2 separate regions of the Homo sapiens genome follow, and region 2 is linked to region 1. A link means that fine-mapping ties the variant in region 1 to the expression of a gene that starts in the linked region. Tissue or cell type: whole blood. Region 1 holds a variant in brackets; the other region holds the start of a gene. All regions are shown on one strand. Distances are between the middles of the regions.

Evidence for each region. PIP is the estimated chance that this variant, and not a neighbour inherited with it, causes the effect.
Region 2: it holds the start of DPY19L3, and the variant in region 1 is fine-mapped to the expression of DPY19L3 in whole blood (TOPMed, PIP above 0.99).

Annotation. Positions count from the first base shown.
Region 1 is chr19:32,438,724-32,446,905 of GRCh38, reverse strand. DPY19L3 (dpy-19 like C-mannosyltransferase 3) reads right to left here. Exons shown (of 19, transcript NM_001172774.2): 7 at 7,671-7,794; 8 at 6,996-7,130. Among named protein-coding and RNA genes, the nearest start is that of DPY19L3, 37 kb to the right of the region's middle. The variant T/C (reference allele first, on the strand shown) is at 3,057.
Region 2 is chr19:32,401,773-32,409,954 of GRCh38, reverse strand. It overlaps DPY19L3 (dpy-19 like C-mannosyltransferase 3), which reads right to left and starts at 4,185. Exons shown (of 19, transcript NM_001172774.2): 1 at 4,046-4,185; 2 at 1,599-1,738. The coding sequence starts at 1,701. It overlaps DPY19L3-DT (DPY19L3 divergent transcript), which reads left to right and starts at 4,416. Exons shown (of 3, transcript NR_046201.1): 1 at 4,416-4,964. RefSeq lists silencers at 3,804-4,553, 4,584-4,633.

The DNA of each region.
Region 1 (8,182 bases):
TTCTGCTGTTACTGGGTGGAGTTTCTATAAATGATCATTAGATTCTGTCGGTTGAAGGTGTTGTTGGGTTCTATATCTCTGATGATTTTCTGTCTGGTGTTCTATCAATTGTCCAGAGAGATGTGCTGAAGTCTCAAACTGCGATTGTGAATTTTTCTATTTCTCCTTTCAGTTCTGTCAGTTTTTGCCCCACACACGTTGCAGTACTGTTGTTTGGTGCAGGTACACTTAGGATTGCTATTTCTTCTTGGTACATTGAACGTTTTATCATTATATAATGTTCTGTTCTGTCCCTAGTAATTTTCTTTGCTCTGATATCTACTTTCTCTGATATTAACATAGCTACTCCTTTCTTTTGATTGATACTTGCATGTTGTATCTTTTTCCATCCTCTTACTTTCAATTTATCTATATTGTTGTGTTTGAAGTGTGTTTTAGACAACAGCTGGGTCATGCTTTTTAAATCCACCCTGCCATCTCTTTAATTAGTATATTTAGATCATTTACCTTTAATGTAATTATTGCTATTTTAGTCTTAAATCTGCTCTTTTATTCTTTTTTGTTTGCTTGCTTCTAATTCCTGCTTCCTTCTTCCTGCCTTCCTGTAGGTTACCTGAACATTTTTACAATTTCATTTTTATTTATCTGTACTGTTTTTTCATGTACTGCTTCGTATAGTTTTTTAAAGTGGTTATTCTGGCTATTACATTATGCATTAATAACTTATTACGGACTAGTGGTATAGACATTTTAACTGTTTGAGTGAGGCATAGAACCCTAACCTCCATTTAAGTCTCATTACCCTTCCCATTTATATTGTTAAAGTATTTCTTTTACATATAGAGAACCACATAAGACAGTGTTATAATTTTTGCTTCAGCTATCAAATATAATTTTTTTTTTTTGAGACGAAGTTTCACTCGTCTCCCAGGCTGGAGTGCAATGGCACAATCTCGGCTCACTGCAACCTCCGCCTCCTAGGTTCAAAGCAATTCTCCAGCCTCAGCCTCCTGAGTAGCTGGGATTACAGGCACCCATCATCACACCTGGCTAATTTTTGTATTTGTAGTAGAGATGGGGTTTCGCCATGTTGGCCAGGCTGGTCTCGAACTCCTAACCTCAGGTGATCCACCCACCTCGTCCTCCCAAAGTGCTGGGATTACAGGTGTGAGCCACGACGCCCAGCCTCAAACGTAATTTAGAAACTCAAGAGAATAAGAAAAGTCTGTTATATTTATTCACATTTTTACTTTTTTCATTGCCTTGTCTTCCTTTCTGATGCTCTTAAATTCCTTATCATTTCCTTTCTGTTTCAACAACTTCCTTTAGCTATTCTCTTACGGTAGGACTGCTGGCAATATTAGTTTCCTTAATTGAGAATGTTTTGATTTCCCTTTCATTCCTGAAGGACATTTTAACTAGGTATAGGAGTGTAGGTTGATGGTTTTTTTTTTTTTTTTTTTTTGAGATGAAGTCTCGCTCTGTCCCCCAGACTGGAGTGCAGTGGCGCGATCTAGACTCACTGCAAGCTCCGCCTCCCAGGTTCACGCCATTTTCCTGCCTCAGCCTACCAAGTAGCTGGGACTACAAGCGCCTGCCACCATGCCTGGCTAATTTTTTGTATTTTTAGTAGAGACAGGGTTTCACCATGTTAGCCAGGATGGTCTCTATCTCCTGACCCCATGATCCGTCTGCCTCGGCCTCCCAAAGTAATGGGATTACAGGCGTGAGCCACTGCACCCAGCCTTGACAGTTCTTTTTTTCTGCATCTGAAAATACTAGGCCACTTCCTTTTGGCCTCCATTGTTTTTTGTTTTTTTTTTTTTTTTTGAGACTGGGTCTTGCTCTGTTGCCCAGGTTAGAATGCAGTGGTGCAATTACAGTTCACTGAAGCCTCAATTTCTCCCACTTCAGCCTCCCAAGTATCTGAGACCTCAGGCACGTTGCTACCATGCCTGGCTAATCATTTTATTATTATTATTATTTATAGAGATGGGGTTGCATCATGTTGCCCAGGCTGGTCTCAAACTCCTGGGCTCAAGCAATCCACCAGCCTCAGCCTCCAAAAGTGCTGGGATTACAGGCGTGAGTCACTGTGCCCAGCCCCTCCTTGATTTTGATGAGGAATTCACTGTCATTTAAATTGGTTTTCCCCTATAGGTACAGTATTTTTCTGACTACTTTCAATTTTTTAAAATTTATCTTTAGTCTCCAAAAGTTTGATTATAATGTGTCTTAGTGTGGCTCTATTTGGATTTATCCTGTTTGATATTAGTTCAGCTTGCTGATTCTGAAGGTTTATAGCTTTTGCCAAATTTGAGGAAATTTCAACTATTTTTTCCGAAAGTATTTCTTTGCATACTTTTTTCAGCTTCAGTAAACTCTTTTCTTGTCTTCTTCTGGGATTCTGATTACCTGAATGTTAGACTTTTCATTATAGTCTCACAGGTCCTTGAGGCTCTGTTCATTTTTGTTTCATTCTATTTTTTCTTGTTGTTCAGATTAGGTAATTTCTAAATTGTTCTATCTTCAAGTTCACTGATTCTTTCCTCTGACTACTTCATTTTGCTGTTGAGTCCATCCACTGAGTTTTAAACTTCGATTACTGGAATTTTTCTGTTCTAAAATTTCCACTTGCTTCTTCTTTGTATCTTCTACTTCTTTGCTTAGAGTTTGTATTTTCATTTGTTTCAAGTGTGTTCGTAATTGCTCAATGAAGCTTTTTTTTTATGATGGCTGCCTTAAATTCCTTGTAAGATAATTCCAATTTCTGTGTATCTCAGTGTTAGCATCTATTGATTGTCTCTTTTCACTCAAGAGAGATTTTCCTAATTCTTAATATAAGAATTTTTTTTTCTTTTTTTTTTTTTTGAGACAGAGTCTTGCTCCGTTGCCCAGGCTGGAATGCAGTGGCCCCATCTTGGCTCGCTCAAGCTATTCTCCTGCCTCAGCCTCCTGAATAGCTGTGATTACAGGCACATGCCACCACAGCCAGTTAATTTTTGTATTTTTAGTAGTGACGGGGTTTCACCATGTTGCCCGGGCTGATCTCAAAC[T/C]GACTTCAAATATCTGCCTGCCTTGGCCTCCCAAAGGGCTGAGATTACAGGCATGAGCCACTGCGCTCGGCCTAAGAAGTGATTTTTAACTGTATCCTATTACATTATGGGACCCTGGATCTTATTTAAATCTGCCATGTTAGCAGGCCTCCTGTGACACCATGTGTCTTGGTCCATTTAGGCTGTTATCTAACAAAATACCGTAATCTGGGTAGCTTATAAACAACAAAAAAGTTACTTCTCATAGTTCCGGAGGCTGGCAAGTCCAAGATCAAGGAACTGGCAGATTCAGTGGCTGGTGAGGGCTTATTTCCTGGTTCACTGATGGCACTTTCTTGCTGTGTCCTCCTCACATGGTGAAAGGGGTGAAACAGCTCCCTTGTGCCTGTTTTATAATGGCACTAATCACCTTCTAAAAGGCCCTACCTACCTCCTAATACAATCACCTTGGGGATTTGGGTTTCAACATATAAATTTGGTGGGGGACCACAAAAACATTCAAACTATGCCAACGCTATGCTAATGGGGAAAGAAGGGTGCTGCCTCAGTACTTTCAGACGGAAATGGAAGTCCAAGGTGCCCACTTGCCCTCCACTGACATCTGGGGGTCAGCAGAAGGTGTACTTCCTTATTGCTGGGTGAAGGCGAAAGTTCAGGCTCTCTACAGGTCCCTGCTGACACATGCTGGCTGGGAGAAACAGAGGTGCGTCACCACTGCTCCCTACATGGCCTGCACCGACAGCATGGGGTAGGGCAGTAGAGAAAGGCTTATTACATCTGGGTGGTGGTTAGAGTCTCAACCTCCCTGTTGACCTTCTCTGACACCATCCTGATAGAGAGGGGACAGGATGTCTCATTACCACTGAGTGAGAGTTGAAGTCCAAGTTTCCCAAGTGGCCTTCACAGATGTCTCTGGGAGATGGTGAAAGTTCTGGTTCCCCACTAGACTTCTCTGACATAGCTCTGGCAGGAAGCAAGGCATGCCTAGTGACAGCTAGGTGAGGGTAGGAATCTAGGCTTCCCACTGAACTTTACTGATGGAGGTGGGAGTGGAGCTGTGGTTTTGCTTCTGTAGCATTTCGCTAGAATAAGGCAGTTAATGTTTGAAAGTTTTCTGTCTTGTTAGGCTTCCTCTCTTCTGGTCCTTTTGCTAGAGGGAGGAGGCTTTTTGTTTGAGTCCATTGTTATTCCCAGGTTTCTGACTTCTCCAGCACCCAGTCAAGGATATATGGGGCAAAAAGAAAACCCAAGAAACTCGCTGTCAAATTTTCCCTCTGGTCGCAAGGTCCCTAGGCAGTCTGCTTCTCTCTACCTCTCAAATTCCTCTTATGTTTGTTATATACATATACTGTCTAAGGTTTTTCAATGTACTTTGGGGAGGAACGGGGAGAAATGTCTCTACTCCCTCTTGTCTGGAACCATGTAGGGTACTTAACATGATCTCTTAAGCATTTATCATGAATGCGTCTGTTTCCACAATAGATTAAGAAAACTTTATTAACCTCCATATTTTAGCCTTTAATTAAGCAAAAGTATACACTTTATAATATGCTTGCTGTTCTGTTTTACTCTGTTCACATTTCTGACTGGAAACTTGAGGTTTTGCTGGTAAGAGTTTCATCATTCATGAAAAGATGACAAAATGTACTGTAGAAGGTACTGCTTCTTGTCACCACACTGAGCTCTGAATTTGTATTACCTTTTTCTATACCAATTATTCTGACTCTTTCCCATTTGACATGGTTAGAGAGAAGTGATTCTAATTTATGAAGAAACTAAGTTAAATCACTTGCCTAAGCTGAAAGAGCCAGTTATTTTCAGACCTGACAGCAGCAATTTAGTTTTATAACTCAGGATCCTTTCATTGTAATAATGTTCCTCCTTAAAGTCTGATACTTAAAACTACTTCTAATACCAACACAGTTTCAAATGTAAAAGTTGAACAAAGTTTAGAACTAAATAAAAAATCAATTAGCTATATTATTTTAAAATGTTGTGTATGTGAGCCAAAACAGTACCTTTGCTTTCTAATTTTAAAAGAGATACATGTTCAGATGGGCACAGTGGCTCACACCTATAATCCCAGCACTTTGGGAGGCCAAGGCAGGTGGATCCCTTGAGGTCAGGAGTTCAAGACCAGCCTGGGCAATATGGCAAAACCCTGTCTCTACTAAAAATACAAATATTAGCCGGGTGTGGTGGCATGCACCTGTATTCCCAGCTACTTGGGAGGCTGAGGCAGGAGAATTGCTTAAACTCAGGAGGTGGAGGTTGTAGTGAGCCAAGATCGCGCCACTGCACTCCAGCCTGGGAGACAGAGTGAGACTCCATCTCAAAGAAAAAAAAAAAAAAAAAGAGACACATGTTCATTATCAGAAAAAATCAAAAGATCTAAAGAACAAAAAGAATATGCAGAACATCAATCGTGTAGCTGACTGTTGATACTTTACTGTGTATTTTTCCAGAACCTTTACTCATTTTCTCTATGTTTCGCTTTTTCAAAAAAATATGGGGGAACTAATGGTTATATAATATTTGATTGCATAGATATGCCATCATTTATTTAAGTATACCCTATTGCTATTGGCTCAAGTCATTTCCAGTTTTTTATTTCTTTTTATCTTTTCCGCCCAGCTTTTTCTTATTACAATACAACTAAAATGAACATGGCAGATTATTTACTTAGGACAAACTTATAGGGGTAGAAATGTTGGTGAAAAGGCAAATACATTTTTAGGCTTTTGATACCTACTGTGAAACTACACTAAAGAAAGATTATAGGAGTGTATAGGTTACCAGCAGTGTAGGAGTGGTCACTGGCACACCTGCAGAAACACTAAACATTTCATATACATATATAAACTTAGTCCTATCTACTTGCTCTTGCTGCATTCCACCTTCCTATTCTGCCCCCACCCCTGACATCCCACCCAAATTCTACCCTCACTTGTGATCTAGGTGGTCCAGTTCTAGCTTCTTACTTCTGTAAACACTTCTCTGCCTAAAAATAACTTTTCTTCTTTTAGATATATCAGTATTGCTAATTAGCAGCTATCATTTGTCTGCTTGTTCTTGTTGTCTGTGATCTTTGTTTCCCAAGCTAAAAGGCAAACTGTGGCTATGACAATGAATTACACATATTGGCATTTTCTGTAGTGCCCATTCTATTACAGTGTCTCAGTAGACAGGCAATGTGTATTTCTTGGTAGACTTTTATGTTTCTTAATTCAGACTCAGTCAGTTATGGAAGCTTACTGGATCTCCTTTGATATGGAATAAATGAGCACAAATCCTTGGGCTATGCTGCTGCCTTAGATATGGAGAAAGTATTTTATTATACTTGGGAAATATTTAAGTTACTACTACTTTAGAATACTAACTATAAGCCATTTTAAAACTGTACGCAATACATAAAATCATATTTTTGCACATGAAAAAATGTGATTAAATGACAGCAGCAGACATTAGGAGACAGATACTGGTTTCTTTATTTCACATGTGACTTTCAGCCAGTCAACAGGGATTCACATCCCATATTAGTTAAATGTGACTATGAAAATTTTATAAAGTACTACAAAAAAGCTGTTATATACCTATTGATTTCTTTTTTAAAAGTGGCAGTACACAGTAAGACATTTTAAAAGAGCTATCTTATATTTTAAAATTTAAGTCATCTCTATAAATAACAATTGACCTAGGCATTTATGCCCCAAAATAAAATCCATTCCATTTTTTAACTTAAAATAAGCGAATAAAAGTTAAGATGGTCAAACTAGGCTTCATAAATTACTCAGCTTCAATTGGCCACAGCAAATTTACAGCAGATCTAAGAAACAGCTTCAATTTTATCCATAAGTACTTGCATATTTTCATCTCATTCTATGATATAAAAACACTAAATGGCCAAAATCTCAAGTGAGAAAAGAAAGCAAAGCTCACCTTCACTGCTGGCAGCATGTCCAGGGAGTCCAGTGTGAACAGCACTAATGCTTGCATCAGCATCATAAATTGATTAAATTGCCATGTCAGACTAAAGAGAAAAGTTGATATGAAAATGGCAAGAAGTGTCAGCCTCTGTAAAAAGAAAACCTTTGTATAATTTACATGTCTCTAGTAATAAAAAACCTTGCAGACAAGTTTTCTCAAGAGCAGCCAGTATCTCTATAAACCAAACAGAAAAACCATAAACTGTTGCTCTGAAAACCCTTGCATTTGTTATTTAAGCTCTAACTATCATAAAGTGACACTTTGCATATAAATATTCACATACGGTGTGTGTATTCCACACTATTATGGAGGCGATAATGCACCAAATCACATCTCAAGAGCAAGGGCTTAAAAATTCTGACAGTTTGCAGAAATTGTGTGTGGGTTTGCTGCAACTATTTAAGGGTAGATTATGTAGAGTACATTTTTAACATCAAAAATGAAAACATTTTCTTTGCAAAGTAGAAAAAAGCTCACGAAAAGAAAACTTAATTTAACTCAAGTTTAAAAATTGGTCATGGAATAAGAACTATTCACATGCATTGGGATACTAAGCACATCACATTTTTTGAAGCTTCATATATAAAATTGGGGGATTAAAATATATGAAATTTTATAAACACTTACTTCAGAAAGAGGCTGTAAGTTTGGTCTCAGGAAATATGTAATTGCTGCTATCTGAATTGCAAAGAATGGCAGCGCCCAGTTCTCCCTCAGTGGGATGGTAAACTCAACTCTTGTGGTATCTATTCTGCACAAAAGAAAACACAAATGGCCAAAGTGATAGTTTTTACAATAATTTCCTCGAAGACTTCCTCAACGAAAGATATATTACATTAAGGACAAGTATACTTAAGATTCTGGCCACTGGTTCTCAATAATTGTCCTTATCATCATCATCATCATCATCATCATCATCCCTGTAACATAAAATTGGCATAGAGAACATTTAAGTGCTCTGTCCATGGGTATGCCCTTAGCACCTAGGGTTCAAGCCCAGGTTAGCCTTACTCCTAAACTCACAAATGTATCATGCCAAACCCTTACTTTCATTTCTCCCTCACTTTATTAGTGTCAAGAGGCAATACACATTTTCCCTCTCTCTGTATTTCTTTGGTGTTTTTTATACTTGAGTCTTA
Region 2 (8,182 bases), 37 kb after region 1:
TAGGCATGTACCCTGCTGTGGTTTGACTATTCGGCCCCTCCAAATCTCATGATGAAATGTGATTCCCAATGTTGGAGGTGGGGCCTAATGGGAGGTGGTGTGGTGATGGAACCAGAGCCCTTATAAACAGGTTGGTGAGATTCTAGCAGTACTGAGTTTTCATTCTGTTAGTCCTAGGGGAGCTGGTTGGTTAAAAAAGAGCCTGACATCCTGTGTTCCCTGGAAATTGCTTCTACTCTGGTCATGTGATCTCTACACACTGGCTCCCCTAAGTCTTCTGCCACGACTGGAAGCTTCCTGAGGTCTCACTAGAGGCAGATGCTGGTGCCATGCTTCTCATACAGTCTGCAGAACCCTGAGGCAAAGAAACCTCTTTTCTTTATAAATCACCTAGCCTCAAGTATTCCTTTATAGCAACAGAAATGGACTAAGACATGCCCCAAGGAAATAAAGTTTTAAACAAACATATGGCCACAAGGAAATTGATCACAGTTCTGTCTGTATTAGCAAATGGTAAGAAAACCTTTCACTTCTACAGTGGCAGCTATAAAAATACTTTACATAGATGATATTTCAAAAATACGTTAACTGGCTTATGACATGTTCATAACATAATAAGAGAAAAATAGCAAGCTACAAAACAGCACGTGGATCCCAATTTTGCAAAACTGTATACGAATGCTTATGGGTATACATGTGCAGAATATGACATTAAGACAGCAAGACAGTGCCACTGGTGTTAGTTTCAGGATGGGAGTATATTTCTTTTTCTTTGCATTGTTTAAGGTGTTCAGAAAGTACTATTATCCAAAACGTGTTAATCACTCGCTAATGGCTGAGCCAGGTGTCATGACCTCCCATTACAGATTACTTTTGTTAAACTGTTTCCCTGAATTGCTTTACTAGCCTGGCTGGTAAGAATTAACATGGCTGTAAATAATGTAAATTCTGTCAGATATCCAAAATGGTTAATGGGTATGAAGATTTTCATGTTAACTTTTAAAATCCTGACCATGCTTTAGTTACAAAAGCTACTCAGGAAGCAAGAAGTTGGTAATTAATGCTATCTGATGCATCACTTAGCAAGTCTTTACCATTATACAAACAACTGACCAAGTTCTGATTACTTTTCCCACCAATAAAAGAAAAAAAAAAAAAAGCAAAAGAAAACTTCAGGAATTTGACTAATTATAAAGAATTTTTAAAAAATGTTGATCCACCTTTCACTACCTTAATGGAAACTCACCCAAGGTAAGGTTGCCTGGTGTAAATAGTATACACGACCAGAAAAATTAGAGAGAGACTAAAATCTGGGGTGTGGGTGGGGGGACCATTACTCTAGAGAGTCAAAGGATGAGATTGGAAGAACCGTAAGTTAATGAACAGACAGCTGACAAACACTTCTAATCAAAGCTCTTTCATCTTTTGTCAAATCATAACTGTAAAATCAATCTAATCAAATTGCAATTAGAATATCAGGGTACTACAACAAGTTTCAATTGTTAGGTCCCACCAAATTTTTATCCTATTGGAGAGTGACATTTTAATATGCAGAAATAAAAGCAACCCAAATTGCTGCTTTAGTTTAAATCACCTACCAGATGGCAATTTATTTTCCAACTTCACATTTTCTTCTTGGGCTGGAAAGTCTTCAGAAACTTCTGTGGCTCTTATTTCTCTTCTTTGCCGGATGGACATCATGATGTCAGACTTACATGCATTGTTCTCCAAATCACTCCTAGATAGCAATAAACAGGCCATCAACGTCAGTGCCTTCTCCCCAACACACCCCGTGCTCATCCATGCTGAAATGCCTTTACTTATGCCATTTTCCCTCTATTAGCATGCCCTCCCTTTTTTTTTCTTCCCCCCAAGACAGGGTCTCACTGTCACTCAGGCTGGAGTGCAGCGGCACCATCACGGCTCACTGTAGCCTCTACTTCCACAGGCTCAGGTGATCCACCTCAGCCTCCCGAGTATCTGGACTACAGGCATGTGCTACTACACCTGGCTAATTATTTTTTGTAAAGATGGGGTCTCCCTATCTTGCCCAGGCTGGTACTGAACTCCTGGCCTCATGCGATCCTCCCCGCCTTGGACTCCCAAAGTGCTAGGATTACATGAATGAGCCATTGTGCCCAGCCTGCCCTCGATCTTGCCATCTAAATCGTTGCTGGCCTTCAAAGCTACACTCAAAACACAATTCAAATATTTATTCAACTCAATCATATTTATTCATGAAGCATGTGCTCTACAGCAGGCCCTGCCAGGAGTCAGGAATACAGGTAAGCAACACAAACGAGCCACTGCTTTTCTTCCAGAACATCTTGGGACATTCCAGTTCCGGCTGATCTTCTCCCTCCCTGAGCCATAGCAGTTACCACGCAATGCGTCACGTAACTACACAGTTGTATATTATTTTCTACTTCCATAGGCGGTAGTAGGTCTTCAGTACCTCCCACAGAAGTGGCCACGTGGGAGATACTCCATAGTAAATGTGTTGACAACCGGATTTTGAAGAATTAAAATATTGTTTTGTCTCAGGTACCTGAATTTTAACACCAGTGTTCTATAAAACAATTCACACTGGCAGCTTCAGGAATACGCCTCAGTGGTGATGACTGCGGGGGTGTGCCAATCAGGGCAGCTGCTATCCCAGGGAGCGTCGGTGGGAGTAATGGGTGGGGGGGAGCAGGAGCCTGGTTTGGCAGCAGCAAGTGGGAGGCGGGGGAGTGGTGGCAGTGAGTAAGCGGGTTCCAGTCCTCCAGAACATCTTGCTTCACTCCTCTGAATAATGAACAGCCTCTTACTAATTATTTCTTAAATGTGACTAGTAGCCTGACATGATTGTTTCCACAGTTTATTAATTCCTAAGGGTAACTTGCTCTACAGAACAAACCAACTAACATTATACAATTCATGTATTCATTCATACCAAAAAAAAAAAAAAAAGCAGGAAGCCAGATTTAAGTACTGTGCTTTCAAGCACTGGAAATGGAGAATCTGGAACAGAGAGGGAGAAGAGGAGTGTTTAACAAAGTCCTACAGCCACAGATGGGCTTATCCCCCATGTGACCTCATCCTAGAGTCCTCCCTAAGTGTGAGAGGACTTTTTTAAACAATTCATATATTCTAATATGTTAAGGCAGAAAACCAACACATATTTAAGTACCAATTATGTGTCAGGCACTGCAACAGTCCCATGAACTAAGAAAAAAAGTTCCTCCATCAGATCAAAAGGAATGCCATTGTAAACAACTGAAAAGGGACCAGAAGCGATTCTTTATTAATAAGGACGACTAGCGCTAGCCGGGCGAGGCGGCTCATGTAATCCCAGCGCTTTGGGAGGTTGAGGCAGGAGGATGACTTCAGACCATGAGTTTGAGACCAGCCTGGGGAACAGAGCGAGACCCTATCTATACAATAAAATAGCCAGGCTCGGTGGTGCATGCCTGTGGTCCCAGCTACTCCAGAGGCTGAGGTGGGAGAATCGCTTGAGCCCAAGAGTTCGAGGTTGCAGTGAGCCGTGATAACGCCACTGCACTCCAGCCTGGGCGAGACAGCGAGACCCCTGTCTCTAAAAAATAAAAATAAAAAAGCCTAGCGCTCTAGTGAGCATCCCCTGGACGAGGCAGGCACCGGGTCCGCTTACCTACGCGCCACGCCCCTGCACACCTGGCGTCCCCATCAGGTAGGTCTCCAAGGACAGGGGCAGCCGGGAAGTTCAGGCACGCGCCCCAGCTCTCCCAAGACCGCGAGCGGCCGCCGGGGTCGCAGCCCAGGCCCTGCCTCGCCGCACGGCCGACGAGCAGAAGCCGCTCCGCAAACTTGGTCCTTCCGGAGCCCAGCCCGGCCCGCGTCCCGGCAGACACTCCCGCGCTCCGCCCCTCCCGACGCCCCGACGCCGCGGCCGCGCCCCCCGACTGCGCCACGCGGCGGGGAGGGGCGGCCCCAGGGGCTCGGGGCTGTAGCCGAGGGTTCCGCCGGCGCCCGCCCGCCCTCTCGGTAGACCCTCGCCCGCGCGTCCCGGCGCGCCGCCACAGACCTGCGGCCTCAGCCGTCCTCACGCGCGGCTCCGGGAGGGGAAGGAGGCCGACGGGGCTAGGCGGGAACGGGGCCGCGCCACGGGCCGCAGCGCGCCGCGGGTACAAGGAGGGCAGAACCGCCGCGGAGCTTTGTGGAAATGAGGGGCTGGGGGGCGTCAACAGCCCCGGGGAGGGGGCGCGCCGGAGAGGCCGGGCGGCTGCCCCCGCGCCCATAGGCCCCGGGAGCTGTTCGTCAACACTAGGCCCCGCCTCCTCCCGCGGTTCCCCGCCTCGTCTCGTGCTGCGCTGGCCGGAAGGAAGCGGCACACTTCCGCTTGCCTGGTCCGCATTGAGTCCGGTCTGTTCCGGAGACTCTGAGCGCGGCCGCGGAGCTGCAGTGGCGGGGAGTGGGGTGCGGATCTTGTGTTTGCGCACGCAGTCGCCGGCCACCTCAGGCCGGAGCTAGAGATACGGCTCGGGATAGGAGGGCCCGGCGGCTCTGAGGCAGGTTCGCCTCGAGCCGCACGGCCCGGAGCAGCGGCTCCGCGGTGGTCCCCGGGGCTTGAGAGGGGTGCGGGCCTGGGAGCCCCTGAGGGCCTGATTTACGGAACTCCCCCTCCTTCCTCCTTTCTGCCGTTCCCTGCTCTGTGGCGGATGCGCAGGGATCAGTAGGGACGGCAGCAGTAGGGCCACTCGGGCCTGCCCCGCTTCCCGCATTGCCCGGTTTGGCGCGCCGCCTCCGGGCCTTGGCAAAGCCCCAGCGCCCGATTGTCACTGACCAGTGCTTGGAAGTCCTTTACCGACTGCCCGTCAGCGTCCCGCGGAGAGGATTTTGCGTCTCCAAAGACGCCCCTCTTCCGAAAACAGGCTCCTCTGTGTTCTCAGTCGGGTATATTTTTCTGTCTCCAAACTAGATTGGCAGCCGTTTTTTGAGAGCAGGTACTGACTGTGCTTTATTTCTAGATACTTTTCTTAGTCACACCACGGAAAACACTAGGTGGAACCTTTTTTAAAATTATTTTTTACAGGTGAGGCTCTCAGTCTGTCGCCCAGGCTGGAGTGCAGTGGTGCTATCACGGCTCACTGCAACCTCGGCCTCCTGGGCGCAAGCGATCCTCCCGCCTCAGCCTCCGGAGTAGCTGGGACCACAGGCTCGCACTACTATGCCCAGCTAATTTTTAAATTTTTCGTAGAGATGGGGGTCTTGCTTTGTCGTCCAGGCTGGAGTGCAGTGGTGTGATCGTAGCTCACTGCAACCTTAGTCCCCTGTGCCCAAGTGACCCTGCTTCCTCAGCCTCCTGAGTAGCTGAGATTCATTTTAATTTTTATAGTGATGGGGTCTCGTTGTGTTGACCAGTCTGGTCTAAAACTCCTGAGTTCAAGCAGGCCTCCTGCCTCAGCTTCTCAAAATGTTGGGATTACAGGCTTTAGCCACTGCAGCGGGCCCATCAAACGTTGTATTTGTCAGTACATAATTTACATGTTAATTGATTTTTGTTAAAGGGATGGCCATCTGGGACCTCCACCCGTGAAAAGGCGGCTCATTGGTCTGACTCCAACACTAAATTACGCCATCCAGGAAGCCTTTCCTAGTCACCTCTGTTGGAGATCGTCCTCCTTTGTGTGTCGGTTGTTAGTAAAGAGCACACGTTCTGTGGAAAGATGTTGAGGTATCTGCTGGATGGCTTTGATAGAAACAAATGTCAGCTGTTTTTTCAGATGGCATTTGTCTTGTTTCAGCCTGGTTGTTGGTAGCTTTTCTGTCGCCTGGCTTGAGGGCAAGGACTGTATGTTTATTTTTCACGTTAAGATGCCTTTATGTGCATGTGTCTGTTTCATGAATACATAGGTGAATTGAGTTCCCCTTAAATAGGATTTCCCTCTTATTTTATAGGTTTTTTTTTTTCTCTCAAGTTGTTTCACTCTGGGGGAAATGTGACCATTGTGAAATATCATCGCTTAGTTAAAAAGAAAGTAGAATTCAGCAGTAGCTGCTTTTTTTAATACTATGAAAAGACATTCCTAAGCAAGATGAAGCTTTGAGACTTTTCCTAAGTAGGACCTACTGCTGAGAGTAAGTCTTGGGGAGAATAAGCCAATTAAGAATGAGTCTTTGGTTCTGATAAAGTAACCATGGAGGTGATGGATAATGAGTGTAGGTCCTTGCTCACACTTCTGGCCATATGAGCCCGGAGCCAGGGAGGTACTATAAAAGGAATGGGCTCCTGTAATGGACTGTGACTGCAGTGGTGGTATATAGCAAGACTTCCGGTTTGCAGTAGGTTTAGAAGCCTAAATAGTCTCCCTGGTTGTCTCTGCCAGGGCCACAAATAGTTGTGCTGTGCATCTCAAAAGTGTGGTCTGGGGATCTGCAGCGTCACTGTCACCATCACTTGGGAGGTTGTTAAGAAATGCATGTTATCAGGCCCTACCCCACGCCTACTCAATTTAGAATCTGTAGGGCTAGGGGACCACTAATCTTTAAGAAGTTGATATGGTTAGGCTTTATGTCCACACCCAAATCTCATCTTGAATTGTAATTCCCATAATCCCCACCTTTCAAGGGAGAGACCAGGTGGAGGTAATTGAATTATGGAGGCAGCTTCCCCCATGCTGTTCTCATGATAGTGAGTTCTCACAAGATGTGATGGTTTTATAAGGGGATCTTGCCTCTTCGCTCAGCACTTCTTCCTGCCTCCTTGTGAGGAAAGTGCCTTGCTTCCCCCTTTGCCTTCTGCCATGTTTGTAAGTTTTCTGAGGCTTCCCCAGCCATGCTGAACTGTGAGTCAATTAAACTTCTTTCCTTTATAAATTACCCAGTCTTGGGCATTCTTTGTAGCAGTATCCTTTATAGCAGTATGTATAGCTGTATGGACTAGTACAGAAGTTTTCCAGATAATTCTGTGCTCGGAAAAGTTTGGGAACCACAGCAGAACCTTGTTACTCAACATGTGGTCTGTGGGCTGTGCAGCATGGGCATCACCTGGGGTCTTCTGAGAAAAGCCAGGTCTCAGGTCCTACCCAAGACCTGTGTAGCCAAAATCTGCATTTTAATATGACCCCCAGGTCATTTATGTGTACATCACACTTTGAGAAGCACTGCACCAGAAATCTTTTAACACTGTTCATTACATCCATCCCATGGAAGTATCTTGTCTTGGGATCCCGAGGGTGTGAGTTCTTCCGTCTTACTGGCTTTTTCCTGTCTGATACATGATGTCCATTTTAAAAATTTTATTTATTTTAACTTTTTGAGGTAGAGTCTAACTTTGTCACCCAGGCTGGTGTGCAGTGGGGTGATTTCGGCTCACTGCAACCTCCGTCTCCCGGATTGAAACGATTCTCCTGTCTCAGCCTCCTGAGTAGCTGGCATCACGTGCTGGCCACCACGCCCGGTTAATTTTTGTATGTTTAGTAGAGACAGAGCTTCACCATGTTGGCCAGGCTGGTCTCAAACTTCTGATCTCAAGTCATCCACCTGCCTTGGCCTCCCAAAGTGCTGGGATTACAGGTGTCCTCCACTGCGCCCAGCCCAGTGTTCATTTTTCAATTGTTTGACTTAGTATAAACACTCTCCATCATTCCTGCCTTCTGTGACAACAGACTGTGCGTGTTTCCTCTGTCTACCTTTCAGGCATTCCTTTTAAGTTTCATGCAGCTACTCCTCCTCCCTCCTCCCTTCTCTTTCTCTTCTTTCTTCTTTTCTTCTTTCTTCCTCTTCCTTCTTCTTCCTCTTCCTCCTGTTCTTCCTCCTCCTCCTCTCTTCTTTCTTCTTCTCCTCCCTTCTCCCTTTTTGGAAAGAGGACTTACTGTGTCATCCAGCCTAGAGTGCAGTGGCTGAATCATGGCTCAGTGCAGCCTTGCTCTCAAAGGCTCAAGCAATCCTCCCATCTCATCTTCCAGAATAGCTAGGTTACAGGCATGCACCACCATGCCTGACTAATTTTTTAAAAATTTTTTTGTAAAGATTGGGGGTGGCAGGGGGTCTCTCTGTTGCCCAGGCTGGTCTCAAACTCCTGGGCTGCAGCGATCCTCTTGCCTCAGCCTTCCAAATTGTTGGGATTACAGGCATGAGCCACCATGCCTGGCCTCCTCTTCCTCTTAAAAATCAATGATTCTGTGGCCCGTGGATCTGATTTCCACTGATACTCTGATAA